Regions from separate parts of the Homo sapiens genome. Here all the other regions are linked to region 2. Evidence: fine-mapped expression QTL. A gene starts in region 2. Each other region holds a variant in brackets. All regions are shown on one strand. Distances are between the middles of the regions. Region 1 overlaps SAMD5 (sterile alpha motif domain containing 5). Region 2 holds the start of SAMD5 (sterile alpha motif domain containing 5). Region 3 overlaps SAMD5 (sterile alpha motif domain containing 5).

The links.
Region 1: its variant is fine-mapped to the expression of SAMD5 in thyroid (GTEx, PIP above 0.99).
Region 3: its variant is fine-mapped to the expression of SAMD5 in liver (GTEx, PIP 0.91).

Annotation. Positions count from the first base shown.
Region 1 is chr6:147,547,706-147,558,465 of GRCh38, forward strand. All of the region lies in intron 1 of SAMD5 (sterile alpha motif domain containing 5), which reads left to right. Among named protein-coding and RNA genes, the nearest start is that of SAMD5, 44 kb to the left of the region's middle. The variant A/G (reference allele first, on the strand shown) is at 6,098.
Region 2 is chr6:147,502,000-147,512,759 of GRCh38, forward strand. It overlaps SAMD5 (sterile alpha motif domain containing 5), which reads left to right and starts at 6,691. Exons shown (of 2, transcript NM_001030060.3): 1 at 6,691-7,388. The coding sequence starts at 6,930. RefSeq lists an enhancer at 1,554-2,083 and a silencer at 4,843-4,892.
Region 3 is chr6:147,524,858-147,535,617 of GRCh38, forward strand. The region is part of intron 1 of SAMD5 (sterile alpha motif domain containing 5); the gene reads left to right. Among named protein-coding and RNA genes, the nearest start is that of SAMD5, 22 kb to the left of the region's middle. The variant G/A (reference allele first, on the strand shown) is at 5,298.

The DNA.
Region 1 (10,760 bases), 46 kb after region 2:
ATCATATATTCACAGGCTCCACCCACACTCGAAACGGAGGGGATTACACAAGAAGAGGAATCACTGGGGTCATTCTTAGAAATCCGTTGACTGCGTTTATTTCTGCCCAAGAAATATAGCTTAGGAAGGAAGTTTTTTCATGGAACCTGTAGTTTTGCCCAAATGCAGAATTGAAAAGTAAGAAATCTTTCTTCAACAAGAATTAGATACTGATAGGGGAAGAGGAGGTGGCTGAAGCTGGTGGGGAGAGAATATGAATTTTCTTTTAAAGGCTTCTTGATATACAGAAAATACTTAAAGAGCAACTTAATTTAGGTAATGGGCATATAGAATAGTTTACTTCCTTGATTTTCAAATTAAGAACAGCACTCATAAAATCTCATTTAATAAGTTCAACAAGAAAAAATATAATAATAGCCAATTAAGAGAAAGAGATTTAGCGGGGAGTGGGAAGTAGAGAGACAGCACAGAGGGTAAAAGCCATTCAGAGATCTTAATAGATGAACAGTATCCCTTAGAGGATAATGTTGCTAACTATTATTAAAAATCAGGTTGTGATTTTATATGAATGGTTTAATAGTTTTTGTACATGTTGCCTCCTCAGAGAGACCATCATTTCGGTACCCCACCACTCATTATCATATCACTCTCTTACTGTCTTTCTAGAACGTGGCAGAATTTGAAATTGTCTATGTTACATGTCTAATTGTTTATTCTCTGCTTCCCAATTTGAATACAGAATTATGTGTTCCCTGTTAACTTTACCCCAGAATGGGAAATGCAGAGAACCAAGTCCTAGTCCCAGGTCTGTGACTAACTTGCTTAGAAGTCAATTCGTTTGTGATTCTGAGAACAGAACTCATCTCAACATCTATCAAATGAAGAATGTACAGTAGAGGAATTAGATGATTTCAAATGCTTCTCCCAAAGGTATCCTCTATGCCTTTTTTCCCTTTGTTTCCAAAATGATCTGCTTTCTTGATTAGGACTTAATATTTCTAAAAATATTGGGTGGTCATGTGCTGAAAGAAAAGATGGTGCTGTGAAGGAATTTGCACAGGGTTCCCTGAAGTGAATTGTTTCTCTTACCCTTGGCTTTCTCCCCATGAAAATGAAGGCAGAGTATGACAGATTGTATTTCTCCTCTTGAAATCACCTTTCTTGCATTGCCCCTCCCTGCAGGAGTATTATGTGTCTTAACCCTTTGAACTCTGACATGCTTTGGTTAATGAAAGGTGAGTAGAAGTGATGTGGCTCTCTTCCAAGCAGAAGCTTTACAAAACTGTGCATGGTTCACAAATTAAATCTTTTCCCTTAGTCACAATGACTGGCAGTGATCCTGGAGTGAAGAAAATGGCACAGAACCATAGCTGACCCATACTGGATTTGTAGCATGAGTGAAAAATAAAACTTCATTGTTGAAAGCCATTGAAACTGTGAGGTCATTTGTTACTGAAGCAGAACTGGCCCATCCTGACTGATAAACGCCTGATACTTGCGTGCACCAGTTCAAATCATCTTGGCCTGAATTCCTATTGCAGCCACGGTTGAGCAAACAGCTCTGCATGAGTTTCAACCAGCATCACATAGGTGCACCCTAGCAGCTCATTGGTTTAGGCCTGTGCTTCTTGCTTTCAGTCCAGAGGTTCCTCTAACTTTGTCATGTACTCCTGTGGGAACTGACTGGCACTCATACATGTATGAACAGGAAGTGCAAGGATATTAACATCCATGAGACAAACCTTGACAAATGAGTAATGGAAGGTGATGGATAAATGTTTCTCTCCTTGTTCTTTTTTCATGCACAGCTCTGAGATGTATTTCCTAAGGCTCCTGGAAAGGTTTTCCATAATAGAGCAACACATCACCAAGCAGCCAACCCCTTCACACATCGCGTCGGTTTTGGGCTTTCCTTCTTTGTTTCACTCACTCCTTCCTTTTACTCTCTAGGATCACATTCCCAAATAAACTATCTACATATGAGCCTTTGCCTCATGTTTTGTTTACTGGGAGAACATGACTCATCACCAGTTAGATTCTCTTTGAATTGAACCAACTTGAACATTATCCACCACCGGAGCAAATTATGTACTTCTATAGCATGGAGGATTATACTGTACATTTATAGTAACTTGCAGAACACAAACAGTTTGCTACTTAGACTGGAAGTTATTGTTAGATTTGCTGATTTAAAAATAAGTTCTCCCTTCCCCCATTAATCCTCTATCAACCGGCTATTATTAAAAAGTCAAAAATAGGCCATACGAGATGGCTCATGCCTGTAATCCCCACACTGGGGGAGGCTAAGGCAGGAGGATCACTTGGGCCCAGGATTTTGAGACTAGCCTGGGCAACATAGCAAGACCTTTGTCTCTAAAAAAATAAAAACATTAGATGGGCATGGTGGCCCACTTGTAGTTTGAGCTACTTGGGAGGCTGAAGAAAAAGGATTGCTTGAGCCCAGGAGTTTGAGGTTACAGTGAGCCATGATCACTGCACTAGAGCCGGGGCAACAGAATGAGACTCTTGTCTCTCTTAAAACAAAAAGGTCAAAAAATAGCATGTTGAAGGGAAAGGGAACATTTATACTCTGTTGGTGGGAATGTAAATTAGTACAATCTCTATGGAAAACAGTACAGAGATTTCTTAAATAATTAAAAATAGAACTACCATTTGATCCAGCAATCCTGCTACTGGATATTTACCCAAAGGAAAAGAAATTATTATATTAAAAGATACCTGAACTCATATGTTTATCACAGCACTATTCGCAATAGCAAAGATATGGAATCAACCTAAGTATCCATCAATGGATGACTAGATTAAAAAAATGTGGTATATATACACAATGGAATACCATTCGGCCATATAAAAGAGTGAAATTATGTCTTTTGCAGCAATATAGATGGAACTGGAGGCCATTATGTTAAGTTAAACTATTCAGAAACAGAAAGTCAAAACCAGCATGTTCTCACTTTTGAGGTGAGGGCTAAAGAATGTGTACAATAGACCTAGAATGTGGAATAACAGACATTGGAGACTCAGAAGGGTGTGAGGTGGGCAGAGGTGAGGGATGAGAAATTACTTAATGGGAACAATGTACATTATTGGGGTCACCGTTAGACTAAAAATGCCCAGACTTGACTGCTACTCAATATATCCGTGTAACAAAACTGCACTTATACCTCTTATATTTATATATATATATAAACCCTCCCATTATTAGTTCTCAGTCCATCCTGGTGCCATAACACACAGATTTTCGTTGTGAGGCATCCATGTTTTTTGACATTCAGTGATTGAATAGCATGTTGTTAGACACAAATTTCAAATGTGGAAGCACAGTAGAGGGGTTGGGATAGCTGTCATTCTGTAATACCTTGCTGCCCTTCCACTCGAAGTTCTCAGACCACTGACAGCGCCCTGGGGCACAGTTCAGTTGTTAGGTGCCAGGAGAAATACTGTTTCATTTAGGAATTGAATTGGCCAAATTCTCATAGTGTCTAGGCTCTGTTCCCTTTTTGCCTCCTCATCAGTCTATTCCCTAAAAATCATAAAATTACAGCATGATAGAACCGGGTCTTAAAATAATCTAGCTAACTCCCTTATTTCATAGGTCAAAAAACAAGAGGTTAAGGAAAATGCTCTACTTTGTGGGGTGAAGGAGAGAAATTAAGGGGGAATGTAATTTTGGCTGTTAAGGAAATACCATTTTCTTTTAACGTAATTAAGTTCTTGATTGTGATGCTCTTAAATGAACCATGAAATTCTAAGCACTTACCATGCGAGTGTGATTTTTAACTAAGCCTTTTTTTTTCTACCCCCAATCTGAATGTTAAGGTGGCAGATGCATAACTAATCTTAGCTGAATCTATATTAAGAAATCAGCAAGGTGTCTTTATTTAACTTCCATGATGTGTGAATATAATGTAATGTTGAATAGCATGATTTTGCACATTATGTCCTAAAATAAAAACAACTCCCTTAAAGTGATAGTAAAATGCAGTAATGTGAAAGGTTATTTTTTATTCGATCTCAAACGAAATGAAAAGCACAGAAGAAAAGAATTGGAGACCTTATTCTTAAATGTGATTCTTATATATATGTTATATATATATATATATATATATATGTATATATGTATTTTAACATTTTAATTTATATATATGTAATATTTTTAAACCTGAAAAACCAGTGTTTGGGTTTGTATTCTATGTCACACAGAGGAAGCTCCTATCAGCAGAAGAGAGGTTCTAAAATCCTTGTTATCGGAGTTTAAATTTTCTGAAAAATATCCCACCCGTTGAGCTTCTATGTTCTTGCTCTGGGATGTTTCCATGGGTCTGTATTAGTTCCAGGAAATTTGGGTCCTTTCTATTTTATCTCTGGAATTGAGGTTCCTGCAGAAACTACAAGGGATTATCTGTGTTCTTTGCTGTTTAATGTCTTTGCTGCAGTGAGACAGATTCCTGAAGGAGTAAACAATGAAATGTTTTAAGGCTAACTGTGGGAGATTATGTGGAGAGGAAATACAGCTATTCTGAGAGAAGACATATAAAATGTTGGCCTGTTGCTTCTTGAAGTAATACTGTAAAGACCTCTTGCCTGTTGTACATTAACCAATGCAAGCATGTTATAGTTGAAGTTGGGATTCTGGGGTTCACCTTTTTCTCAGTTAATGAATTTTTATTTTAATGTAATTGAATTTTCTTTAAGAATCCAATTTCCACTTCAGAAGATACCATTCCCCTGGGAAAGTGGCTCCCAATCCAAAGAACATAGACCCTTGAGGAATTAATACAAGACTCTTGGAACCTATTTGGGCATCAACCATTGTCAGTGAACATCTGCATAAATAGTGTTTTATATAAACACATTTGAAGGTGTTCTTACATTTTTGGTCACTTTTAAAGCAGTACTTTTTCTCAATCAAAGGGTAGCAGGAAAATAAGAAAAGCCTAACAGTAAGGTGACTCTGTGTGTGTGTTTGTGCACATGCATACATATGCCTGTGTGGGGCGGGGTTGCGGAGGCGCAGTCTGTGTTTTTAAAAACAATTAAAGAGGTCTTTATGCTTTAACAAGCTGAGAACTACTATGGTAGTTATGTTCTGTAGGGCATGCTTCACAAAGCTAAATGAAAAATTTTAAAGTTAATGACTAAACAGTGCTTAAAGCATACACATTATTCATGATTTATTCTAATAACATTTGTGGATGACTAACTTAATAATGGTGCTGAACATCCATTATGTTTTTGTTCTAAAGATGTGTCTAAGTATCTATGCCTCCTTAGGGGTGGGTTTACATCACTCAGTGATTGAACTAAGATATATAATTCCATGTCTTTGTATAGAACAGGTACTGGAAAAATCAACCAGTTATATAGGCTTCCACTGTGCCAGATACTGTTCTAAACAGTCTTGTAGATATTAGCCCATTTAATCCTCATGATAACTCTCTGGGATGTAGGGACTGCTGTGGTTCCTATTTTGTAGAGGGGGAACTGAAGCGGAGAATGGTTAGGTTGGGTAATATGCCCAAGGCCATCCATCCAGGAAATGGCAGAGCTGGACTTTGAATCCAGAGTCTGAGCAGATCCCTTGCCCTGTCCTGCTTCCATCAGAGGACTTCATGTCTGTCCTGGCAGGAAGGGATAGGATGACTGCTGGGGAATACCTAGAGGCTGGCTGGTTTGGTTTGAGGTAGTATGCCTCATGTGTTCTCCACTCCCTAACCCCAACTACCAAATTGTTTTCTCTCTTTCTGTATCTTTCTCTTTCTCATATACAATCTCACATACCTACAACCACTCTGGACCCACGCTGGACACGATGCCATAAGGTTACCTTGGACAATGGCTGAGAGGTCCTTTGGTCTGGGCTTTGTTCCTAAACCTTCCCCTAGGAATTGTCACTGCATAACACCCAGCATGAATGGGTAAGGTCTCCAATGCATAATACAACTCAGTCCTATTTACGTGTTTTCCTGCTTTAGGTAACACATTTGTGTTTCTTCCGAGTTCATTTGGACAAGGTCAGTGTCTTGAGGGTTATTCAGATGACTTTATAAGCACTGTTCTTTTAAAGCAGTTAGCC[A/G]TGGTCTAACTTGAAAGCCACATCACAGCATGTTTTTTTTTTCTGAAAAGTCTGAAAGTGTTCTTTTTCAGCCCTGCCAAAATTGGAGACGAGGTAATGGGACGGAAAACAACACGGGTACCCTGGACTTCCTTCATTCTGGCTGCCACTAAACATGTGTGTTAGTCCATTCTCACACTACTTTAAAGAACTGCTCAAGACTGGGTGATTCAAAAGGGAAAGAGCTTTAATTGACTCACAGAACTGCAGGGCTGGGGAGGCCTCAGGAAACTTACAATTATGGCAGAAGGCAAAGCAAACATGTCCTTTTTCACATGGTGGCAGGAAGGAGAAGTGCTGAGCAAAAGGGGGAAAAGCCCCTTATGAAACCTTCAGATCCTGCAGGAACTCACTATCATGAGAACAACAGTACGGGGGTAACCACCTCTATGATTCAATTACCTTCCGCTGGGTCCCTCCCATGATACATGGGGAATTTTGAGAACTAGAATTTAAGATAAGTTTTGGGTGGGGACACAGCCAAACCATATCAACATGCAAATGTGCCTGGGAAAGAATCGCTAAAGAGGATGACGCTGTTGTCTTGCTTCCTTGCCCCTTCCGATTCATCAAGTGAGGTCGTGGCCAGTGGAGGCCAGGCTTCAGTGTTTGGGGAACTGAGCTTGGTTGCCAGGAGGCCACAGGCTATTTTGATATGGCAGGCTGGCTGCACTCACAATTGCTGGGTCACTTCAAAAGCTCTTGTGATTGGCAAGGCTGGCAAGCACAGTCCTTCAGAGAAGCATGTTTTTTCCAGGCAGAGCAGCCATCTTTGCAACCCCCTCACCAGACAGGAGAGAAAAGTCACCTCACCTTAATGGCAGGAAGGTTCCAGACTTCCCAGTTCCTTGGACTGAGCCAGATGAGAGCCAGAAGGGTGAATGTGGAGCGATTGCTAGGATGGAGCTATCATTTGAATGGGCAGAATTCTATTTCAGACTGATGACTTGGTTGGACGCTTGATGCTGATTTTGTGATGCCTACCTTAACTTCTTGTATCCAGAAGTGGTATAGAGCAGTAGTTCTCAAAGTGCCGTCCCCAAGGCCCTTTCAGGGGGTCTGCAAGGTAATAATTATTGCATAACAATACTATAATGTGATGTTATTTGCCTCTTTCACTGGGAGGGCATTTGTACTGGCAGCACAAAAGCAACAGTGGATAAAAATGTTAACGTCGACCTGTGTTAGTACTTACTGGATTCTTCACCCATATGCACACCCACATATACCTGCCAAAAGAAGCAATTTTTCCTTAAAATAGCCTTGATGAAGCAGTAGAAATTAATGTTTATTAAATCTCCACCTTTGTGTACATGATTTTGAATATTCTGTGTAACAAAATGAGAACTACTCATAAAGCACTTCTGTTGCAAATGGACGTGTATGTAAATCTTGTCTCCTTGCAAACCACTTGTGCTCTTGTTTGAGTTGCTGGCTGAACTGGCTGCATTTTCCATGTAACACCATTTTCACTTGAAAGAACAACTGAGAACAAGCCATGCTTATTTAGACTTGGGTATTTGGCAGATTTCTTAAAAATAACTAAAGTGAACCTAATATTTCAAGAAGCATAATTGACAGTATCTGTTGCTAATGATGAAATTTGAATGTTCAAGTGAAAACAAGAATTTCAGAAAACTTATACTTGCCCCAGTGAGTTTGATAGTTTCATACTGCCTAAATATTTTTTTTGATTAGGCTACCTTGGGTGGTGATATTAACACATGGAATTTTTAAAATATATTGAATAATGATATGTGTCAACATTTGGAAGATCTGCGTAATTCAGAAACTGAATATTTTCCAAATGACCAATACATGATACCATAAAATCATGTATGGGGGAAAAAGTCAATCAAAAGTTGAAGATTGACCAATGATTTTAATGTAATAAACAGTAAGAAAAGTTCATTGATATGGTTTCAAATTTCACATGGCAAGTGACTTTTAAGAAACCGCCGCTTGTCAAGTTTTGCCATGGTATTAAAATGAATATCTACAATTATTTATCTGAAAAGTCTGTTCAGATACTCCCTACTTTTTCAATGATACTTCTCTGTGAGGTCAGATGTGCTTCATATACTTCAATTAAAAACATATTGCCACAGATTGAATATAGAGAGATATAAAGAGACATACAGAGATATGCACAAATGTAAAACAATGCCATTCTTCTTAATTTTGGGGAGAATATATGTTTATTTTTCACAAAAATATTTGTGTTAATATGTAATGCATTTACTAGTGTTATTATTATTTTTTTTTTTTTGAGATGGAGTCTTGCTCTGTCGCCCAGGCTGGAGTGCAGTGGTGTGATCTTGGCTCACTGAAAGCTCCGCCTCTTGGGCTCATGCCATTCTCCCGCCTCAGCCTCCCGAGTAGCTGGGACTACAGGCGCCTGCCACCACGCCCGGCTAATTTTTTGTATCTTTAGTAGAGACGGGGTTTCACCGTGTTAACCAGGATGGTCTCGATCTCCTGACCTCGTGATCCACCTGCCTCAGCCTCCCAAAGTGCTGGGATTACAGGCGTGAGCCACCGTGCCCGGCTACTAGTGTTATTTTTAAATGAATTAAATATGTATTTTAAATATTTCACAGTTACAATTTAAAACACAGTACATATCAATAGTTATAACCCATAAAACAAAGCTATTTGGAATCTTCAGTAATTTTTAAGAATTCAAATGGCTCTTAGAACCAAAACCAGAGAATGGCCGGGATACAACATTGCAGTGTTCTCAAGTGGAGGTTTCTGAGCTGTCATGAAATTACAAAAAGTTTCCCAGGTTGGGAATAGTGACTTTTCATTATATAGTTTTAAATACATCAGAGACAATTACTTAAATAATTTTATCTTTAAAATGAAAACTTTGTAGAGCTCAAATATGCTTACATCACATATTAAACTCTCATTCTTCAATAACTGATATAAAAACAAAAATACTGGCAATTATTTTCAATTTTAATTTATCAGAAATAAATTATATCTACAACGATAGTATGTTATTTATAGAGCAATGCTTGAAAGTGGCCACTAAAACCTTCTCTCTTGTCTTGCAATTTAAAATAAATCACAAATATTCAAGTAAATAATAAATAAACCAGCGGATATTTTGAGCAAAAGAAAAACAGTAGTTCTGTATGTTGACTGTTTTCTAGTTTTGATGCTGTAACCAATAGTTAAATCTCAGTCTGCATATTAATATACATGGAGTCAACATATAAACATATAGTTTTTAATGTATTTTAACAAATCATATTTTTCATACATAATTTAAAGTTTGCATCATTTATTGAATAGGAAGAAGTCAAACTTTTTCATTATGACATTAAATATAACTAAATAAGCATCATGCATAACATTTTATATTCTGAATAAAAATAAAATACTTTTGTCTAAAATCACCTTTGTATCAATGAAGGGATTAAAAAACATTTCTAATAACATTTAAAATTCTATCTTTCCTGCAAAGGAGCCTATGTTTTCTAGGGCTTGTAACAAAATAATACCAACTGTGTGTTAAAACAACAGAAGTTTGTTTTCTCACAGTTCACAGCCAGAAGTCTGAAATCAACGTGTCAGCAAGGCCATGCTGCCTCCAGAGCCTCTAGGGGAGACTCTTTCCTTGTCTTTTCCAGCTTCCAGTGGCTTCTGGCATTCCTTGGCTTGTGGCTGCACCACTCCACTCTCTGCTTCCACTTTCACCTGGCCTCTTGTTGGTATGTCCCTGTGTCCTCTCCTCTCCTTTCCTTGTGAGAACACCAGGGATTAGATTCAGGGCCCACCCTAAATCCAGGATAATTTCATCTTGAGATCCTTAATTAAGAACATCTGCAGAGACTCTATTTCCAAATAAGGTCACATTCTGAGGTTCCAGGTGGATGTGAATTTTGTGAGGGGGGACACTATTCAACCATTACAGTTTCCCAACATAAAATGATTGCAGAGCATAGAAGTAGTTTTGATAAAGTGGGCTTTGCTGTTGCACAGACCCACCCTGCCACTGATTAGCAGTTTGACCCTGGTAGGTTGTCTACACTTTAAAGCCTCAGATTCTTCATTTATAAAGTTGGGTCTAGGATCGCCATCACATTGGCTTGTGGTAAGCAGTAAAGGTGATTATGTAAAAGTGTACGTTCACATCACAGTCCCTGGGAGGTAGGCACAGAGGGAGTTCACTCAGTAAATATTAGCAGCCGTTTGCTGCTGTTGCTGGAGCAGGCAGGTAATAATAATCATAGTATGTTCTATAAGCATACCGTCATGGCAATTATATTGGTGATAATTGAAGTATGAGTTAGCAGATTAATGTTAATGGTGATTTCAAAGACAATTAGTATACAATAATAGATGATTTTCCTGTGGAATAGGTTGATGAGAGACAGAGACAGAAGGAGGGAGAGAATGAGAACTTCAAGTGAGCAGCCCAGGAGCCTGATGAGAGCCAGGCAACAGAAGTGTTGTATCCAAAGACCCACCATATTTTAACGAACTGCAGTAGAGGCCAGACACTGGCGTTCAGCACACTCCAGCATTTATGGCTATTTCTGTTCTGGGCTTGTGCTGCGTAATTATAAGGCCTGTGTCTTGATCACATTTTGGATGGTATTCGGAGAACCTG
Region 2 (10,760 bases):
GTCTTGCTATGTTGCTCAGGTTGGTCTCGAACTCCTGGCCTCAGGTGATCCTCCCACCTTGGCCTCCTAAACTGCATTTTTCTTACTTTGAGTCTACTTGAGAATCATTTCAAATGAGGGTCTATTTGTTTGCTTGTCTATTTTTTCTGAGAACTCTCTGACCCATCTTTCCATAGCCCTGCTGGCCTTTTATTTTCTCTATTTTTAATGCTTTTTCTGCATTAGCTATACCAATCTATGGTTACCATATAAATTCTAAATATTTTCCCACAAGGACAAGCTGTTGTCTATTTACTTTGCTAACAGAGGTTTTTGTTCCCATGCAAAGGTTTATCATATTTATATGATCAAAAGTATCAAGGTTTTTCCCCATTGCTTCAAGAAGTTGAATCAAAATTAGGAAAGTTCTCTCCACTCGGATTATAGAGGAATAAACCCATGTTACCTTTTAATTAAGTATATTGTTTCATCTTAATCTTTACATTTCTGAAACGTGGAATTTATCCTATTGTAAAGCATAAAGAAAATGTCATCTATGTTACTTCTCTGGGCAGGTCCCTGAAGACCCTCTCTGCTTGCTTATGACCCCAGCAAGTCCTCTAAGGCCACAGCATGCTGGCTGAGAGCATACTACCCCAAGCCACGGCCCTGGTCCAAGCTGTGGGCATCTGGGCTCACTAAGACAAGACAGTTGAACAGCTCCAAGAAAGGGTCTGAAATTTGGCTTTTGTGAAACTGTTAAGCACAAAAGTTTTGAGGGAATATTCAAAACATCTCCTACTTTCAGGTTGTCAGGATTATTTCTAGGAACTGAGCTTTTCTGATGTAGGCATCTGATGCCTCACCTACGTCTTGTATTTGCACATTTATAAATAGGGTCTAAGAGACGATGTATATATATATAGCCTCCAAGGTCAGAGATAGTTTCAAAACTGGGATGCACTCCACACTGCCTTGCTCCAAAGCTGCAAAAAGGCAAGATCTCAGGCGTTACTAAGAGCTCTAATTATGCTGGGTTCTTATAATTTAAGAATTCAAGAGTTATAAAGTATAAATTCCAATAGCAAGTTTAAACCAGACAAGAAGCACTGAAAATTTTAAAACAAATACATAAAATTACATTGCCTAAAGAGAGAAAACCAACCACCTCTCAGTCATCAGTAGCCATGCAGGTCTCAGGAAGCAGGCTCTATGGGATCGCTTGTCCTAACTCCAGAATGGGAAGAAACTGTCAGATGGGAAAAATGTTGTTTAGTCAATTTGCATTGGTCATAAATTGAGTGATTTCATTGTTGTGATTATATACATGACTTGCACTTGTCTGAAATAGCATTGACCAATATAATTTCACTTGTATGGGGTTACATAACCTAACATTTAGGTGCTAAATTATAATAGCTTTGCTCATTTAGAATGATAAAATAAAGGTACTCCTAAGAGCTGCCCATTGTTATCTAACAAAATACTGCACCTATCATTTTTACCTCAGAAGACACTAGATTAACCTTTTCCTCCTCTTCTGGAGTACATTTTAAAACGTAGAACTTTTGGGGATTACCAAAGATGAGAGAATAAAATTTTTGAAAAATGGTTCGTATTTGATTTTCTGTCACAAACACAGTCTGTAGCTTGGCTCTCTTTTTGTTAGTGACCTCTAAGTGAATGACTTCTTGAACATGCATTTCCTCCCCCTTTGTTCCTTCTTTAAAGAAAGAAAGGCCTGTTATAACAGCAACGAATAATCTAATGGGATCCTGCTGGCACTCCCCACTGCTCCTTGTCTTTCCTTCTTTCATATGTGTGTTGTCACACACAAGTCTAATGTATACAGCTCAGACATATTAAGAGACACCCCCACCCTGCCTGCCCCCAATTAAGTTGCCAACCCAGCACCTCACTCCCAGCCACCGAAGAAGAGATTGCCTGTTACATCACTCAAGCCCATTATTCTCTTTTCTCCCTATGGCATCCACTCCTTCTAGATGCTTTTTAGCTCCTGGTTTAAGCAGAGGCAAGACATATTTTGCATTTTAAGATTAATATTATATATCTTTGACTTTTACAAGGCTAGACACCCTGGGGACTGACATTTAATAGATGTTAATGGAATTTAATTTTTACATGCACTAGGTGTGAGCATTTATCTTCTAAAATAGTCTGAAACCTTAGACGGCACCAAGAAAATTCCATAACAAATTATTTTTCACTCTATATCCTTAAATCAAGTTACTGAGCAAAGTAGAAAAGCTGTTTTCTGATATTTAGAATTTAAAACCTGAATATAATTATCATTAATTAATTACATGGAAAGGATCAACAGGCATTTTGCCATAGTGATTACCATTGCAAAACAGTTCTAAAATGGTGCCTAAAAAGAAACTTTCTCCATAACCTATTTTCCCATTGATTTTCATTAGGCAAGACATCCCCTCTGCAAAAGTAAGTGTGGCCCCAAACATATTAAATAATAATCAGCATGATCAATATTTTGAAAATTTTTATATAACTCTAACAAAGCAATGATAAAAGTAACACAAAATTAGAGGTAGTTGACCATGTTTTCTGAGTAAATTGTGTGTTCTAACGCTGTGACTAGGAGCAGAGTAGCCACTTGCATTTTCAAAGTACATTTTTGTCTGGATTTCAAATACAGTTTAATTTTGAATTTTGGCTAATATGATCACAGAATTTGGAAAATATTACAGATAGAAGAAAACACTGCTTTGTATCTTTGTAATCTTTACAATTCATGAACTAACATATTTGAAAAAGCTGTCAATTTATTCTCTACATATTTAAAATGCTGAAGTCCCTCCCATTCCAATTAATGAAGGAAAACCCTTCTTTTTTTGCTTCAGTGCCTGGCACTGAAGTGCCTACTTAATAAACATTTGATGAGTAAATGAATGATTTTGACAGTAGCCAAGAGCTTGCAGCAAAAATGAGGTAATGCAGTACATTGCAAAGAGCAATGTGAGGAAGCGGATCTGGGTTCTTGTCCCAGTTCTGTCATGAACCAGCTGTGTAACTTTAGGTAAGGAACTTGACCTCTCTGGGCCTTGGCTTCCTCCATGCAAATCTGGATGCTGGGTATGACCTCCAATGACCTCTAGTTCTAAAAGGCTACAGTTCTAAATCTTAAAATTAGCCATTCTTGCCAGTGTCACTTTGAACTTTAGCCATTAGTCTCCACAGAGATAGACACATTTTAGCGTAGTAGCCTCTAGAATGAAATCTATTAAAAGGTTCAATATGCTAATGCAAGCAGTGGAAAGATACAAGCCTCAATGGTTCACCCAAAGAGGACTCGAGTAAGTGTAGAAGTGTACAAGAGAAATAGAAGGGAAACCTGGGAAAAAAAAGTCTCTATAGCTCAGACTAGTGAAGTCTCCAGAAAGCAGGTTTCCTGAGAGGTCAAAAGTGAGTAGGTTTTATTTATGACTGATTAACAAGTGATGAATTTATAAAGGGCTTCCCTTCCAAAGAGAGCACCAGAATGCTTTATTTCCTAATTGGAGAGTGCTTTGCACATAAATAAAGGAGGATCGCTGCTGCCTGTCAGGGAAGCACTTTGATAGGGCAAGCATGTTCTCGTCTGTGTCCTGATTGACTGTGTGACCTTGGGCAAGTCATTCGTCTTCCCCCAACCAGTATCCCTAATCGTAAAACGGAAATAAAAATACTCACTGCCTTCGCTGAGGATTTATAAGACAAGATGAATATGTTTAAGCCCCCAGAGGGGAAAAGGCCACATATAAGAAGGCAAAGAACTACAGACTCGTGCTGTTGGACTTTTCATACAACTTGGGAAAGAAAACAACACAACAAAACTCTTGAGCTATAGGCCGGGCGCGGTGGCTCATGCCTGTTATCCCAGCACTTTGGGAGGCAGAGGCGGGCGGATCACCTGAGGTCAGGAGTTCCAGACCAGCCTGGATAACATGACGAAATCCCGTTTCTACTAAAAATACAAAAATTAGCTGGGCGTGGTGGCAGGCGCCTGTAGTCCCAGTTACTCAGGAGGCTGAGGCAGGAGAATTGCTTGAACCCAGGAGGCGAAGGTGGTAGTGAGCCGAGATCATGCCACTGCACTCCAGCCTGGGCGACAAAGTGAGACTCTGTTAAAAAGAAAAAAAAAAAAAAAAAAGAAAAGAAAAGAAAAGAAAAAAAGAAAGAAAGAAAGAAAGAAAAAAAGACAAAAAAACTCCTGAGCTTTAAGTTTTCCAGTCCCAAAACAAACAAACAAAAAACCCCCAAACAAACAAAAATCCTCACCCCATACAACCTGCCCATTTTTTCCCCCTACATGTTGCACAGCACAGCACAGGCTGGGGACTGTGATTCGAAGGTGAGTAGCTGGACGGCTGAAGGCTGATGTTAAATTTATCCCCCCAGAATTCGAACCCCTTGCTCCATCCGTAACAGTGAGATCGTTGGCAAATTAGTTTTGATGTCTCAATCTCTTCTTCTGTAAGATATGGGATAATATTACTATTTACCATATGTGTACAGATCTGTGAATAGATGCCTGGCATACAGTAATTTCCCAATAAATATTTGCTGATAATTTCTGTTTCTTAGCAGCATCATTCAAACTGCTGAAATATTTTCTTTAAAAAAAAATCAAAGGTCCTTCTGAGATAGTATTGGGATATAAAGATAAACGTGACAAAAACATTTGTGCTTCAAAGGGGAACCAGTATAAAGCCATAAAGCCCACTTTCTTCTGCTGAATAGAATGAGTTTGGGGACAGGGACAACGCCTTAAAATGGGTCAACGCGCGGACGCGAGGGGGCACTGTGAGTCCGCTTTGGCGAGGGAGAGGCGGCGGCCCGCGCGGGGCGGGGAGGGCTGCGCCCTTCCAGCATCCCAGCGCCCAGGAGCTTCGCCACCTACCAGGGTCCGAGACCTTAACTCGGTTCCGGAAAGGGCGTCCCGGGTGACCCAAGTTTGGGGCCACAAGCAGCTCCACCGGCTCTCCGCGTTGGTCTCTCCCCTCCCCCTAAGCAGACAGTCCTTTCTGCCAGCTGTCCTTAATTTGAGATTCGTGAGTCCCGGGGTTTGGGAAACCAGAACCCCCCTGCGACTGTAGGGAACGTTTTGGGTGCGCCTATGTCGGGTATTTTCCTGGGCAAAAGGACAGAAGCTGTCATCTGATTCTTTAAGGGGTTCGTGTCCCAAGAGGGGGTTAAGCTCTCTTGGTTTAGGATAAGAGGGCCCACCTAACCACCCACCCAAATGCCAAACACACAGCAGGTCGAGAAACGACTCTGAAATCACTCCTTGTCCACTTCCCAAGGTCGGGCGAGAGACTGGCACGCCCCACGGGCAATCTTCAGAAAAAAAGGTCAGATCTGGTCCTTAAACAGCTCAGGTGCGAAGCTGAATCGCCCTTCTGCGGAAAGAGAGGAGACAGTACCTGCCCCCGCCGTCCCTCACTTCCCTTAGTCCCAAGAAGAGGTCAGACACCGGGAAATGGGGCCCAGGCGCTTGGTCTGTTCCACCTGCCACTCGAGTCCCCAGTCCCAAGAGGCTGCTCAGACATTGGCATGATGGGGAAACTCGATTGATTTTGTTACCTCCTAGAGGGAAAATGCCGTGGGCGGAGATGTCTGAGCGTCCCTTCCAACACGAGCTGGGTGGTGCTCTATTGATTTTCACGCGATCCCCGGGCGGGAGCGAGAGGATAGGCTCGGATTCCCGGGCTCCAGGACCGAACGCCTGGCAGTGTCCCCGGGGGCAAAGCCACCCCGGGAGCCCGTGCAGTATACTAGGTGGGGGGCCCGGAGAGAAAGCATAGCGCCGACGAGGGGGAGGGGCCGGGCAGAAAGGAGGGTGGGGTACCGGGTGGGACACACTGACCTAGGAGAAAGTACAACCCACCCCAAACTTTCGCAGACCCGGGAGCTTAGGAAGGGAGAGCCAGGAAGACAGCAGCCTCTCCTGCCGCCCAACGTGCCCAGCTGCAGCGAGGAGGGGCGGCGCGCAAGCCGGCTGGACCCGGGCGGTCCCCACGTTGCGCCCACCCTCCGGGCCAAAACGCCGCCGCTCGGGTCACTGAGTGGCCGCCCACGGAAGAAGTCAGATCGCCGGGCTCTGGGCTGCGTACGGGATCCGAGGAAGGGGGATTCAAACGCGGATCCGGAAGGAAGGGACACTGAACCCCGCAGCGTCCCCAGCGCCGTGGGGCGGCGGGACGTGTCCTTGGGCTGCCAGCGGGCGCGGAAGCTGGAGTCCGGCAGGGTCGGGAAGAAGTGAGCACAGACTTCCACGGGTAGAAGAGTCAGATTAAACAGAAATGTGAAAAGCAACCCAGGGCAGCCAACGGAGCCCAGCAGCGTAGAAGCCACCGGCTTCCCGCCGGGAGGACTACAGTGACTGACACTCGCGAAGACTAGGCGCTCCCAGCGGCCGCGGGTCTGCGTGGAGAAGTCGCCTCGCGGCGCGGAGCGCGCCAGCGGCGGCGGCGGCTGCCAGAGCGCGAGATGCGGCGCGCAGCCGCCGGACCGTCCCGGCTGGGAAAACTCGCGGGCGGCACTGCGCAGCGCTGACCCGGCGCAGGTCCGAGGGGTGTGCCCCGGCCCCTCCCGTCTCCGCCCCCTCCCGCGCCAGTCGCGCGCCCCTCCCCGCGGCGGCAGCGTCGGCGGCGCATCCAGGGGCGGCGCGGAGCCTTGCTCAGCCCAGCAGCCAGTGCCTGCGAGCTCCGCTGCTGCTTGGGGAATTCACTTTGCTGCTTGTTCGCTTCTCCCTTCCTCAGGCTTCTTCTGATGGTTTTCCGTCTCCTGCCCGAGCCTTTCCTTTAAAAGGAAAACTTTACTGCGATACCCTTTTCCCCTTGGAGGAGAGGATTAAAAGTTCCAAGAACTGGTGCCGCCCGTGCCATTTGGGCGCTGGGAAGGTGCTCGGCGGCGGGGTTCCCGGTCCCACCATGTGCACCAACATAGTTTACGAGTGGCTCAAAGCGCTGCAGCTTCCGCAGTACGCGGAGTCCTTCGTGGATAACGGCTACGATGACCTGGAGGTGTGCAAGCAGATCGGGGACCCGGACCTGGATGCCATCGGGGTGCTGGCGCCCGCGCACCGCCGCCGTATCCTGGAGGCCGTGCGCCGGCTGCGGGAGCAGGACGCCAACGCCGCCGGCCTCTACTTCACGCTTGAGCCGCAGCCGGCGCCCCCCGGGCCGCCCGCCGACGCCGTCCCCACCGGCCGCCGGGGGGAGCCGTGCGGCGGCCCGGCCCAGGGCACCCGCGGGGACTCTCGCGGCCACACGACCGCCCCCCGCAGCAGGGAGCTGGTGAGCTACCCCAAACTGAAGCTGAAGATCATGATCAGGGATAAGCTCGTCCGTGACGGCATCCACCTGAGCAAGCCCCCGTACTCCCGCAAGGTAAGGAGGTGCCGTCCGGGCGGCCCGGGGCGCGCGGCGGGAGGGGACACAGCCCAGCTGCCTGTGCCAAGGCTTTGCAACCCATTCCAGGTGACGACGGAGAGGCCAGGAGGCTTTGGGTATCTGGGACCCTTTTCTATGTTCTTTCTGTATTAGCCCATTATTTCGTCCTTCCTGGTGTCTCCAGTGGTTGGTAAGACAAGCCCCCGCATCCAGATGTTATCTCTAAACTAACGACCAAAACTCCGCATCCTCTCTGGTGCTCGCCTGTCAGGAATCGGACTCGCGCTGCTTCACCTGGTAGCCAGGGGGAATTCCTAACGCCCTCTATAGTAGTTTTGGGTTTGAAGAGTACCAGAAAAAATGGTTAATACCTACATTGCTTTCTACCTTCCTTTTTCTCTTTCTTTTCCTTTTTTGAGTCTTGAGAAACTCCTAAGGGAAATCGGTGAACTCTTTAAAGAGTGGAAAGTCAGGCCCTGCCTTTCTCAATTCCATAAAAAATCCCAGCGCTGCTGCAAATTTGAGAAGCTTACCATTCACATGAGCATTTTAAGAGGAAAAGTGAAGGAAGCACGTGTCAGTCCACTTGAGATGATTTCCTAAACTTGTGTATACTGGAGGCAATAAGGTGCTAAGGACATCAGAGATAATCGGGCCACAGGATGTGCTTCAGAGGTCTGGGCTGTCACGAGTTTGGTTTATTATTAAGCCAGATAAGATGAAGTAGGTACAACTGTGACTTCCAGGAAGTGTGAGTGGACCTGCATTTGGGAGAGGAGGACCGAGCACAAGTGAACTAAAGGGGAATCCTCTGCACCGGGGGCCTCAGGGAAGGAACCTGGAAGTTCCGAAATGTGGAGTGGGAGCTGGGTAATTAACAGAAAATGGTACTTCACACCAGAGCTCTGCTTCTAGCTGCGAGTCTGTTCCGTTTAGGTTTCTAGTTCAGGCGGCTGTCGGAGTAGAGGGTCCTGACTTGATAGAGAAGTAGACAGCACAGGTAACGCTCAGGATTGCAGAAGGTGCACAGGAATATGAGCACCTCAGCTTAAAAATCAAGACTTAGAAGAGCCCAGGGAGAAAATGATGGCAAACATACTCAGCTGGTGGGCCACAGAAACCCAACTCCCTAATAGGAAATGTGGATAATCTCAGTGTTGTGTGGGTATCTTGGGCCCTGGTAGTATTGCTGTAGAATCTTAAGTAAAGGCTGTAATGCCTGGAGTTAAGGAAGTTAAAGGGAAAGCTTTGTTAAGAGTAGATAACAATACCTAAGGTAGATGGGAATAAGGGGTTTAATATTATCTACTACCTTGCACGTACCATAGGCAATTCAGATCACCTGCTTGACCATGTTAATTGGTTTTTTAAGGAGGATACAAAGAAGGCAGGTTGGGAGGACAGAGTGCTTCAAATTAAACACGTGTTCCAGTTACCCACTCTGTGCCACTGATGTGTGCTCAAAGCAGGAAAGGAGAGAACACTTTTCCCAGGCAGTTGCCTGTATGTAGGAGTTCCATGTATGTCTGGTGTGGATAGAGAGATCTGGTCATCAGTATAAAGGCTTGGTCCTGGACACAGCAGGTCAAAGGAGATCAAAGCCAGTTAGATGTTTGTTATTAGCATCCCGGGAAGTAAGGTGGGCTTAGTCTGAGAGAATGTGAGTACCTGGGCACTTGATAAGGGCACAGTTCAAGTCCTGGCAAGAAAGGAATGCAGAGAGCAAAGTGTGTCACTAGAGCTTACTTATTCTTCAGGAAAAGTGCTGTGTAATGGGGCGGGGAGAGCAGGGACACCGTGGGCTGGAGGTGAGAAGCGTAAGCTTGAAGTGACACATTTTAGTTCTGATTCTTAAAAAGCAAAAGGCAGACCTACATATCAAACATAGAGGCTGGAAAGGATGTTAAGGGGATGAAACGTCATCAGAAATGTCAGCACATAGGCTTTGAACTCTGGTCTCCTGCCTAGATCAGTGGGTGCTATGGTAGTGCATTTGCATAAGTGCAGTTTACATAAGAAAATGCCAAGTTGCACTGCAATACTATTTACTTTCCATGTAAATAATTACTTCAGTCAACTTTGCTTTAAAATAAATCCCATAGCAATAATGCTTGATAACAAAGATATGCTCCTATTCACTTTCTATACATATTTAATTCTCCTCAAACTGATGGAAGAATAAAATAGAAACAGAAGTGTTTTCATTATCTCCCTCATTGATCCTTGAGTTGGGGACCAAAAAAAAAAAAAACTGGCACTGACAAACTTTATTGTAACACACACTGAAATAGGAATTAAAATATAATTAATGTACACATATAATTAATATACATATATAGCAAACTGAGCATACAAATGTTTAGTACCAGATCACGTTGATCATTCTGGATTTGTTGCTTATATGTGCATTGCCTCTTAAGTTTTGGATTTTAAATTATTGAAGAATTTGTTTTCTGATGTAGCTAGTTTCTTCATGAGCAGTGCTAGAACTTTTTCTTTTCTTGTGTGATCCACATTCTAATTTCTCCACTTTCCTTGGCTTTGTCATGATCAGAATATATAGTATTTTTTGTTTGTTTGTTTGAGATGGAGTCTCATTCTGTTGCCCAGGCTGGAGTGCAGTGCCAGATCTCGGCTCACTGCAACTTCTGCCTCCTGGGTTCAAGCAATTCTCCTGCCTCAGCCTCCCAAGTAGTACCTGGGATTACAGGCACCTGCCACCACGCCCGGCTAAGTTTTGTAGTTTTAGTAGAGACGGGGTTTCACCATGTTGGCCAGGCTCATCTCGAACTCCTGGCCTCAGGTGATCCAGCCACCTTGGCCTCCCAGAGTGCTGGGATTACAAGTGAGCCACCGCACCCCGCCAGAATGTGTAGTATTTTTGATGTGCATTTGGAATTCTGCTTGGTGGAGTGGGCTTTTCAGTCTCCTTTGCAGTCATTTGCATCAATGATGCCTGTGATTTTGTTTTGCTGAGAATTTTAGATGGCTTGAAGGTGAATTATGCCAAAGATTATCAAGATAGGGAGAGTGAGTCTCTTACAGAGGAAAGTAAGTTGAGGGGTCTTCCCAAGAATCACCTGAAAGGATTGTAGGATTTGATCCAGTAATGGTCAAAGTTATGCGGTTTAGGGATCAGTGAGTTAAAACGTAAATAAAAAGTAAATTTTCTTTTGTTTTCCAAAGGGAACTCTATAGCTTTGAAAAAACAGGAGCTTAGAGAGAGCACCAGGCTTTAAATCAAACATCATTGGAAGAGTTCCTCTTCTGCCCTGTATGTAGCTTCTCTGACTGCTGTGATTTCTACCTTTGTGAAATGGGGATAAAATAATTTTTTACCAAGCTTCTCTATGCCAGGCCTTCTGTTGG
Region 3 (10,760 bases), 23 kb after region 2:
ACATTATTTCCTTCAATCCTCACAGCAAACCCTTAAGGTAGAGACTGTTTTTCCCATTCCTGTTTTATACACAGGGAAAATGAGGCTTAAAGAGCTTAAGTAACTTACACAAAGTCACATAATTAGAAAATTTCATTTGAAAGCCACATGTACTGACCTCAGAGCCCGTGGGTCTCATCACTGTGCAATTTCTCCAAGAAACATTGCTTTATAAGATTTGGCAACTGTCTGTTTCTCTGTTGGTGAAAAATAGATATGGTATAGGGAGTGGGTATGTCTTAGAGATTTTTATTTAAAAAAAAAGAGGAAGACTTAGCCGCCTGTGCCCTCAAGAACTTATTGTGGCAATAACTGCTCAATCAGTAGGGTTTACATTGACTGTGGTAAGTAGGAGGAGTAGCTGTGGGGACCTGTCTATGTGGTTCATGGAATGGGCATCTAGTATGGCAGGGAGGAAGATTTTCATGGAGGTGGTGATGGTATGGCTGACCCCTGAAGACGTGTGTTGGAGGCAAGTGTGTCATCAATTTGGCCAGCCTGGAGTGGGAATACATTTTGAAAAGTCCATAGAACACTAATACATGGAGAAATAAGAATAGATTGGAATCTGTGGAAATGGTGTTTAATCTTTCAGTAAACTCTATTAATTGATATCCGAAGTGTTAGTAGCTAGAGGTTACAAGGGTAATGACTGTAACTTTTCCCGCTTGTGACTTGGCATTGTTGTTACTGGCAATGGAAAGGCCGAATTTAAATCACAGTCATCGGCCTTCTAAAGTGAGTGGTTCAGAATTTAATCAAGGTGTGAGCTATGGGGGTTGGTTACTATGTGAGCGAAATCAACACCTATGTCACAAAGTCTGATGAAGAGAGAAGCCTTTGCCAGTCAGCATTAGGGAGGCACTGGTTACTGCCAATGTCCCTGAATGTTCTTGACCAGTTCTGCTTCTTTAGCAGGATCAGTCTGTTGATGTGTTCACGTACAAGAAGAAAAGCACAACCAAGAAAGCCAGCATGCCTCCTGGAAAGCTAGATGGTTTCATGGTGGTGACATCAATCTCCAAACTAATCTTCAATTTCAACAAGCAGCAGGTATAGGCCCAGCCTGTTGGCCATTATCTTTGGATATACCACAGAGACCACACCTGGCTGCCTTTTGACACTTCATCAGTGTCACCTACAACCACACTCTTCAAATAGCCTGCTAGAAATGAATTCCTAGGGCAGAGCTAGGACATGATGAACTGGGCTTGTTGCAATTCAACTAAAAAGCATGGATATGTGCAGAGGGAATGGGAGCAGTGTTTTGCAGGGAAACCACTTTAAAACTGGAGTTTTATAGGCTTAGGTTTTGTGAGTTTCATATTTGTGTTTAATTGTGCATTTTAGCCTATTACGTGATTATTAATTAATATTATTACTTACATTCAGCAAATATTAATTGAGCACCAAGAATGTGCAAAGCACTGTTGGGGTGATGCGGGGAATTCAAAGGTGACAATACTATGAATGTGCCCTAATGGAAATTACAGTCTGGAGAAAGATAAACACACACACATCCACAGATCCATCCATTCATAGATATATATGTAAGTAAACATAACATTTCAGCATCATATGAATGCCAAAATGAAATACAAACCTGTGGGAGCACCAAGGAGAGAACTATTCATTTTGACTGAGGTATTGGAGTATCTTTCAGCCGTAACTGAATGTGAAGGATAGGTAGGATTTTACTAGGCAGAGCCACAGTGTGGACTGTATACTGGAAGCTAAGGGAACTGGACTGTGAACTCCACAGGGATACTGTCCATTTATAAGCTTTTTGTATATTCAGCAGCTTGCTATAAATATTTATTGAATGAATGCATGCATGAAACAGCATTAGCAAAATCTCAGAGTGACAAAAGTGCGAGGTTTGGATTGGTGAGTGGTCCACTTTGGGCGGCAATGGGATGGGAGAAATGAAGCATAAGGTTGGGCTGAGCTGTTGAGGAACTTCCCTGTGGTACTAATGAGTTTAGAATTCATTCCAGAAACTGGGACCTGTCAGATATATTTGACCTGGAGAATTACCTAACCCTGTTTATTTAATGAAGCTCCTTCACATTTTTAACATTTTTGGATTTCTTTCCCATTCTCTCTTCAGGAGTTCCTAATCTCTTTATCCATAGTCACCCCTTTTACTGTATCCCACCTTATCCTCCAGCTTTGAAGCTTTGGATTGAAAAGCTTTGCTACATTGCTTCAGTGATAATCAGTTCATTTTCCTCTTTTCATTGATCAAAGGCACATAACTCAGTGTACTAGTCCATTCTCACATTGTTATAAAGAAATACCAGAGACTGGGTAATTTATAAAGAAAATAGGTTTAACAGGCTCTTGGTTCTACAGGCTGTACAGGAAGCATGGCAACGTCTGCTTCCAGGGAGGCCTCAGAGAGCTTTTACTCTTGGTGGAAGGCAAAGTGGTGATCCAGCACTGAATATGGCCAGAGCAGGAGGAACAGAGAGCAAGGGCGGAGGTGCCACACACTTTTAAACAACCAGATGTTTTGAGAACTCACTATACATTTCCAAGGGGGCATGGAGCCAAACCATTCATGAGAAGTCCACTGCCGTATTCAGTCACCTCCCACCAGGCCCCACCTCCAGCACTGGGGATTACAATTCAACATGAGATTTGGGTGGGTACGCATATCCAAACCATATCATTTGGCCCCTGACCCCTCCCCAAATCTCATGTCCTTCTCACATTTCAAAATACAATCATGTCTTCCCAACAGTTCCCCAAAGTCTTAACTCATTCCAGCATTAACTGAAAGGTCCAAAGTCTCATCTCAGACAAGGCTAGTCCCTTTCACCTGTGAGCCTGTAAAATCAAAAACTAGTTAGTTACTTCCAAGAACTAATTTATAAAGAAAATAGGTGTTTTTAATAAAGAAAGGTTTTTTTTATAAAGAGGTAATTTATAAAGAAAAGAGGTTTAATTGGCTCACAGTTCTGCAGGCTATGCAAGAAGCATAGCACCATCTGCTTCTAGAGAGGCCTGAGGGAGATTTTACTCATGGTGGAAGGCAAAGCAGGAGCAGGCATCTTACATGGCAGGAACAGGAGCAAGAGAGCGCGTACGGGGAGGTGCCATACACTTTTAAACAACCAGATCTTGTGAGAACTCACTCACTGTACAAGGGGGGATGCTGCTACACCATTCATGATGACTCCAACCCCATGACCCAATCATCTCCCACCGGGCTCCACCTCCAACACTGGGGATTACAATTTGACATGAGATTCACTGGGGACACAGATCCAAACCGTATCACTCAGGAACCGGATAAACCAGCAAGGGTTAAGCATGGATTTAACTCCTGACTGTATTAGTTTGCTATGCCTGCCCTAATAAAATACCACAGACTGAGTGGCTTCAACAACAGAATTTTATTTTCTCACAGTTCTGAAGGCTTGAAGTCCAAGATCAAGTTGTGGACTTCTGAGGCCACGTGCCCCAGCTTGCAAATGGCCACCTTCTTACTGTGTCCTCACGTGGTCACCCCTCTGTCTGTATCTTGCCTGTGTCCTAATCTCCTCTTCTTATAAGGACACCAGTCATATTGTATTGGGACCCATCCTGTGACCTTATTTTACTGTAATCACCTCTTTAAAGGCCCTGTCTCCAAATACAGTCACATTCTGAGGGTCAGGACTTCAACATATTAACTTTAGGGGGATGCAGTTCACCCCATAAGACTGACCTGAGGAGTTAATCCAGGCTGTACCACCTGACTTAGAAAGTTATGTTGTCAGTGGTTAAGTTAATCCCAGTCACATGTGGTAGGAATTGGAGCTTGAATCTAACAGCTGATGAAACTAGGTGGTTGCCTAGTGAAAGTGGTCTCCTCTAAATAGTTCAGTTTCTACCACATGCAGGAGCAGTCACTATTGCAATAACTTTAAGTAGGCTTGGAAAAGATGAACATAAATCCACTGCACATTTGCATGGCATTTATTAGAGAATAACCCCCTAAACAAGGGCCAAACAGTACCATTGATGAAATAAATCTCAGACTCCCAATTCACATGGTCCTGACTCCATCACTTTTGACCTGTGTGACCTCAGCCAGATTGCTTCAGCTTTCCCTGCCACTGTTTCCTTATAGATAAATCTAACATAACAGTGTTTCCTCCTGCCTAGAACTATTCTGAGGATTAAGTCAGAAAATGTATGTAGAGCACTTAGCTTAGTGGTTGGTACATAGCAAGCACTTAGTAAACTATTATGTATTCAGTGTTAGCTTTTATTAAAGATGAAAATGGCAGATCTATTCACAGGCATGTTAGCAATAAAACTACTAGGGAAATATTAGTATTTGCATTTATATTTATGTAAATCAAATAAGTTTTCATAGGTTGGCAATCATGTTTTTAAAATATTATAAATATTGTTCTTCTAACCTTATCAATTAAGACATAGATTTTATTCTTATCTATACCCCAATATTATTCAAGAATAACTTTAATTGGTCTTAATCCAAGAGTTCGATGAATACCAATTTAAATGTAATTTAGGTGTATTTATCTTCTAGAATTGAACATTCTCTTCCGCTAATAGTATAAACTTTAATTGTCTTATAATGTATACACGCAGATGAACTATTCCTTTGTGTTGCTAAGATATATAGTATGATTGGACACTGTTATTGTTTCATTACAGACAACCTCATAGGAAGCCTTCCAGAAGGTTTGCATAAAGGAATATAGCACACATAGAAAATGCTGAATAAACTCATCAGTAATGATTTCCTTGGGTCATTTTTACTTTCTGCCTACTTCATCTCCACCTCTAAGTAAAGCATTTCATTTTATTAATGTTTTTCATACCACTTATTTTGCTAGTATTATACTCATTTTAGAACATTTTTAAATATCCAATAAAAATGAATTGGGCACTTACAAATATTTTGTACTATAAGACTGTTTTTGAATATTGTCATTAAAACAGTTATTTCAGGATTTCCCAGTTTATACAATGCATATGGCAACTGAGATACTTATGATCTGTATTATGTGTTTATAAGAATAAAGTTAGTAAAAAAGATTTATTCTAGAAATCAGTTGAGAAGACATTTAAAAATGTCATGTGCAGTTGGGATTCTTCAGCACCTTTTCTTATGGTGTTTCTTTTTTTATTTTCTTAAAGTATGTTTTTACCATATATGGGGACGATTTTTTCCCCCTGGTATTTAGGCTTTGCGTAAACTCCAAACAGAACTATCAAACAAACATATTAGAGGTTTC[G/A]CTGCAGAAAGGACAATATTTATTTTTTGTGTTTGAGATTTCTGTGCAGTAATAATTAACCTTAGATTTTGAACTATCATTGGAGGTGTTGTGGACAGGAAACACATTGATACTGGAGGAGAAATTATTTTTGGCAATACGGTAACTTACCACCTTGTGCACACAAGCACTGCCCATGTGCAGGGACGTTTTACTTGTCAAGATTTACCTCGGAAGAGCATGGTGTGTGCGCAGCACAAAGGCGGCAGGTGCGGATGGCTTTTTTCTCAGTGATAGGGCATGTCAATTCTCATTTCCTATATGCTGAGGAGCACAAAGGGAAGCAGCCGGCATTGCCCTCTGGGGCCAACCAGCTCCTTCCTTCCCCTCGCATCTTGGAGATATGCCATCCTGCCCAAGTACCTGCCTCCTGAGCCACAACTGGCTTGTGGTTTTGCTTTTTGTCTTTGTGGTCCTTGTTGAGGTTTGTGCACTTAATAAGCAGAACCACCAGTGAGAGGCAAACCTTGCAGACAGGGGAATTCCTGCAAAAGCTAAGAATCACCGACTGAAAAGAAGAGAGCAAAGGTGCAAATGGCTTGGGGTGGAGTTGAGGAATTGCGGGACCAGGCCGTGGTTCCCAAACACAGAGAGAAAAAGCACATTCAGGGTTCTGAGCCCCAGGCATTTTGCGTAATCAGCCTTCTTTGCTGTTTCTACTGTTTGATGTCTTAATCTGTTATTCTGGGACCTATAAAATTGTGGAACACAAATCCAAGTTAATCCAAGTTAACCTCTGAACTTGACCTACTTTCATTTAGAATTAGCCTTATTTAAAGTTGTAAACTACAATCATGACTGAAGCACACTAAATAGTGTTCTGTTTATAAAACATAAACCTTTTTCTCTTTACTGTAAATCCTTTCTGGCTGAAGAGGTCTATATAAGAAAACCAGGATATATTTTTCAGTTATCCCAGGACATTTAAACTTTTGAGGATTTAAAAATGATAGTCTTAAAAGTTTTTTTTTTTTTTTTGTCAATTTTAGAGATGATAGAGGTTCTTTAGGTTCTAAAAAATTACTTGATTAATTTTGGTTCTGATGTTTTAGAAAAATATTTTAATCCTGTTTATGTGAATAAAGTCCAGTCCACATGTGAAATTACACTGAAGCCATAATAATCAGTTATGATTATGTAAATTGTAGAACTGATTTTGGCTAAGCATTTCAAAATCCTGCCCAAAATTGCAGTATTTAATTGTAATCTTAGATTATTACCAGGATAATGGCTGTTTTAAATCTTCTTATTTCCATATAATGTGAAGGCAGGCCCATGCCTTACTCATCTCATCTGCCCCAGGCCCGGCATAATGCCTGGTACCTGGCGGGCACCCAGTGAGTGTTGCTCTGAATGGAATGCTCACTGGGACACATTCCTCCATTTTCATTTTGCCCATCAGTGCAAACAAACCTATCAACCAACATTCATGTCAGAACTTATTACTCATTATTGCAACTGTAGGATGGCTTCCCATATAAGAGCTTGGCCAAAATCAACAAAAAACATTCTGTGAGGATCAATTGGATATATGAAGTTGATAATGAGGGATATTATAGAGTTTATTTATTTTGTAAATTGTGTGCTACATAGCCTTATATTTTCGGTCTAGAAAAAATTAATTTTATTTAAAGATGAGTAATAAAACGACCCATAATAGAAATTTGTACGAGATTATATCATCAAACAGTTTTAAAAAGGAGGAAATAGGAGAATTATACTCAATATAATAATTTCTCTTGGAGAAGATAAACATACTGAAAAATTTTGTAGAAATTCATTGGAGTAATCATTTCTATAGAATAGGATCACAAAAGAGATAGTAAAACTAACTATAACGTAGACATTACCAGAAAACAAATGTTTGTCTCTTTTTTCATTGCTCTATTACTATCCCCTAGAACAGTGACTGGCACATAGAGTTTCATATATATATTTAAAATAATTAATTTTTATTTCAGTTTTGGAGGTACTAGTGTTTTTTGGTTACATAGATAAATTCTTAAGTGGTGATTTCTGAGATTTTGGTGCACCTGTCACCTGAGCAGTGCACACTGTACCCATTAGGTAGTCTTTTATCCCTCACTCACTCCCTCCCACCTTCCCCCACCTCCCTGAGTCCCCAAAGTCCATTATATCATTCTTATGCCTTTGCATCCTCATAGCTTAGCCCCCACTTATAAGTGAGAACATATGATATTTGGGTTTCCATTCCTGAGTTACTTCACTTGGAATAATGACCTCCAGCTCCATCCAAGTTGCTGCAAAAAACATTATTTCATTCATCTTTATGGCTGAGTAGTATTCCACATCCCACATTATCTTTATTCACTCATTGGTTATGAGCACTTAGGTTGGTTCCATATCTTTGCAATTGCAAATTGTGCTGCTATAAACAAGTTTGTGCATGTGTCTTTTTCATATAAAGACTTCTTTTCCTTTGGGTAGATACTCAGCAGTGAGATTACTGGATCAAATGGTAGTTCTACTTTTAGTTCTTTAAGGAATCTCCATGCTGTTTTTCATAGTTGTTGTACTAGTTTACATTCCCACCCACAGTATCAAAGTGTTCCCTTTTCACCACATCCACACCAACATCTACATAGCCTTTCTATCAGTACGGTTTATAACATAGTTATAATGAGGTTATGAATGGGTCCACGTGCATACATTTTTCCTCCCGGAGAGCCAGTTGTTAAACATTTAGCCCTGCACTACCGAGAGGGCATTTTTATTATGGTTACTTCTAGTTCAGATTTTGGCTAGTAAATGTTAACCAAAGTTCTTTTGAACTGAGATTCAGGGGAGTGGTGGTGTTTTACCTCCTGTGTTGTCCTCCCTGTACAGCAGAATGAAAGCAGTGCAGCCATGGTCAGGCCTTGGGTTGGGAAGGGGGCTGGCGGTGCCAGCAGAGGCCAGCACACCCAGAGCCCAGACCCAACATAGGGGCCCAGACCAATCCACCAAGCCCCGGGGCAGGTCCAGGGCTTGCAGGGCATGATGTTTATGAAATGTAAAGGTCTTCTTTAAAGCAAAAGAATGCAAAATTAGGTAAAGGGCCTGAGGCCTCAACTTCATGGTAGACCTACTGATCAAGCAGAGAGAGCATTTAAGAAACCAAGGCCGGGCGCAGTGGCTCCTGCCTGTAATTTCAGCTACTCCGGAGGCTGAGGCAGGAGAATGGCTTGAACCCGGGAGGTGGAGGTTGCTGTAAGCCGAGATCGCGCCATTGCACTCCAGCCTGGGCAACAAGAGCGAAATTCCATCTCAAAAAAAAAAAAAAAAAAGAAAGAAAGAAAAGAAACCAAGAAGCTTCTAGTCTGACATCAGGAAGGTAGAGGACAGGATTTGCAAGAGCATCAGTGGTGGCAGAAGACAGCGAGGAGAGAGTCACCAGGAGTCCAGCCGAATGAGGAGCCCTGTATTAGAGAAATAAAACCTAGAGGATGTGTGTCTCCCCTCTCCCCCTTCCTCCTCCTCCCCGCCTCCTCTCTTATTTTAACTGGTGACACCATTGTGGGGCAGACTGGCAGCTGCAGATCCAGGGATCCAAGAAAGCTGATGTTGCGGTCTTGAGATTGAGGGCAGTCTAAAAGCAGAATTCCTTTTTTCTTGGGGGACTTTAGTCTTTTTCTCTTAAGGCCACCAACTGATTGGATGATGCCTACCCACATTATGCAGGCTAATCTGCTTTATTCAGAATCTACTGATTTAAATGTTAATCAACATCTAAAAACTATTCACAACAATGTCTAGACTGATGTCTTACAAAAATAAACTGGGCACCACAGTCAAGCCAAGTCGACACTTAAAATTAACCATCAGAAGCCCCAGTGTAGATTCTCAGCCTAGCCCATAAGGAGGGCCAGGAGGGCAGGTCATCTCCTCCCACAGTGTGGACATGACCCGGGGTACCTAGAATAGAGGTGAAGGACTGCAAGAGGAATGTGGAGTTCAGAACCCTGTGATGCCATTAGCTAGTTTTGTTTTGGGCCTGAGGGCGGTGAGCCCTTTTACCTTTCCAGCCTGAGTTTTCTGCTGGGTGAAGTGAGAGCACTTGTAGAGACATGATGAGTCACGGGCGAAAGGACTGTGTTCTTTTTTCTCGTGGCACCCTTTTTGAAGCAAAATCTCATGTGAAATCCAAACCTCCCCAAACAGAGTTCAAAGTACCTTGTCTAAATGAATGGTTGGGGCAAGGACTGTAACCACCCAAGGGCTTTACCTTGCCTGCTGCCTAGACAGAGCCGATTCATCAAGACAGGGGAATTGCAATGGAGAAAGAGTAATTCACACAGAGCCGGCTGTGCGGGAGACCAGAGTTTTATTATTACTCAAGTCAGTCTCCCCGAGCATTCAGGGAGCAGAGTTTTTAAGGATAACTTGGTGGGAGGGGCGACGCCAGTGAGCCAGGAGTTAGGGTTAAAATCATAGGAAGTTGAAGCTGTCTTTTTGCGCTGAGTCAGTTCCTGGGTGGGGGCCGCAAGATCAGATGAGCCAGTTGATTGATCTGGTTGGTGCCAGCTGATCCATCAAGGGCAGGCAAAATATCTCAAGCACTGATCTTAGGAGCAGTTCAGGGAAGGTTAAAATCTTGGTCACCTCTATCTGCATGACTCCTAAACCATAATTTTTAATTTTGTGGCGGATGTTAGTCCTACAAAAGCAATCTAGTCCCCAGGCAAGAAGGAGAGGTCTGCTTTGGGACAGGGCTGTTACTGTCTTTGTTTAAACCATAAACTATAAACTAAGTTTCTCCCAAAGTTAGTTCAGCCTATGCCCAGGAATGAACAAGGACAGCTTGGAGGTTACAAGCAAGATGAAGTCAGTTAAGTTAGATCTCTTTCACTGTCTCAGTTATAATTTTGCAAAGGCGGTTTCAATCCCTTCCTTTGGGTTTTATAACATCTTAATTTTAAGGTATAGGCTATGAAGACAGGAAATGGCCATTGATCGCTTTGACTTCTTCCTGCTTACAGGGGACGTAGTGGGAATGGGAGTGAACCCCAAGGTGAGAAGCGTGTAACCGCTTTGTAATTGTGTGAGCGTGCTCATGCAGCCCTGGTTGAGCTTCCAAGGCTTGCAGGGCAAACATTAGTATTTTTATTTATAGTGTTACTACAGTGTTTAAGTGAACAGCCTACTATAAGGTAAATAACAAGTCCTAGGATGAGGAGTACAAATTTCGATTTTAAAAGCAAAGATTTGAAAACATTAGTTTGGGGATTTTAACCTGCACATAATTTAGAATTTAGTTTAAACTGCAGAAAAAGCCTTAAGAACAGCTAACAACAGTGTACTATAGTTTTTCTTTTGAAGCATAATTTTTTTCTTTAGTCCCCATTTTTATTAAAAACAAATCATGATAGAACTGATTTGTTTACAAAATAAACTTTAGTCTTTCTGTACTTGGCCTGATTATTT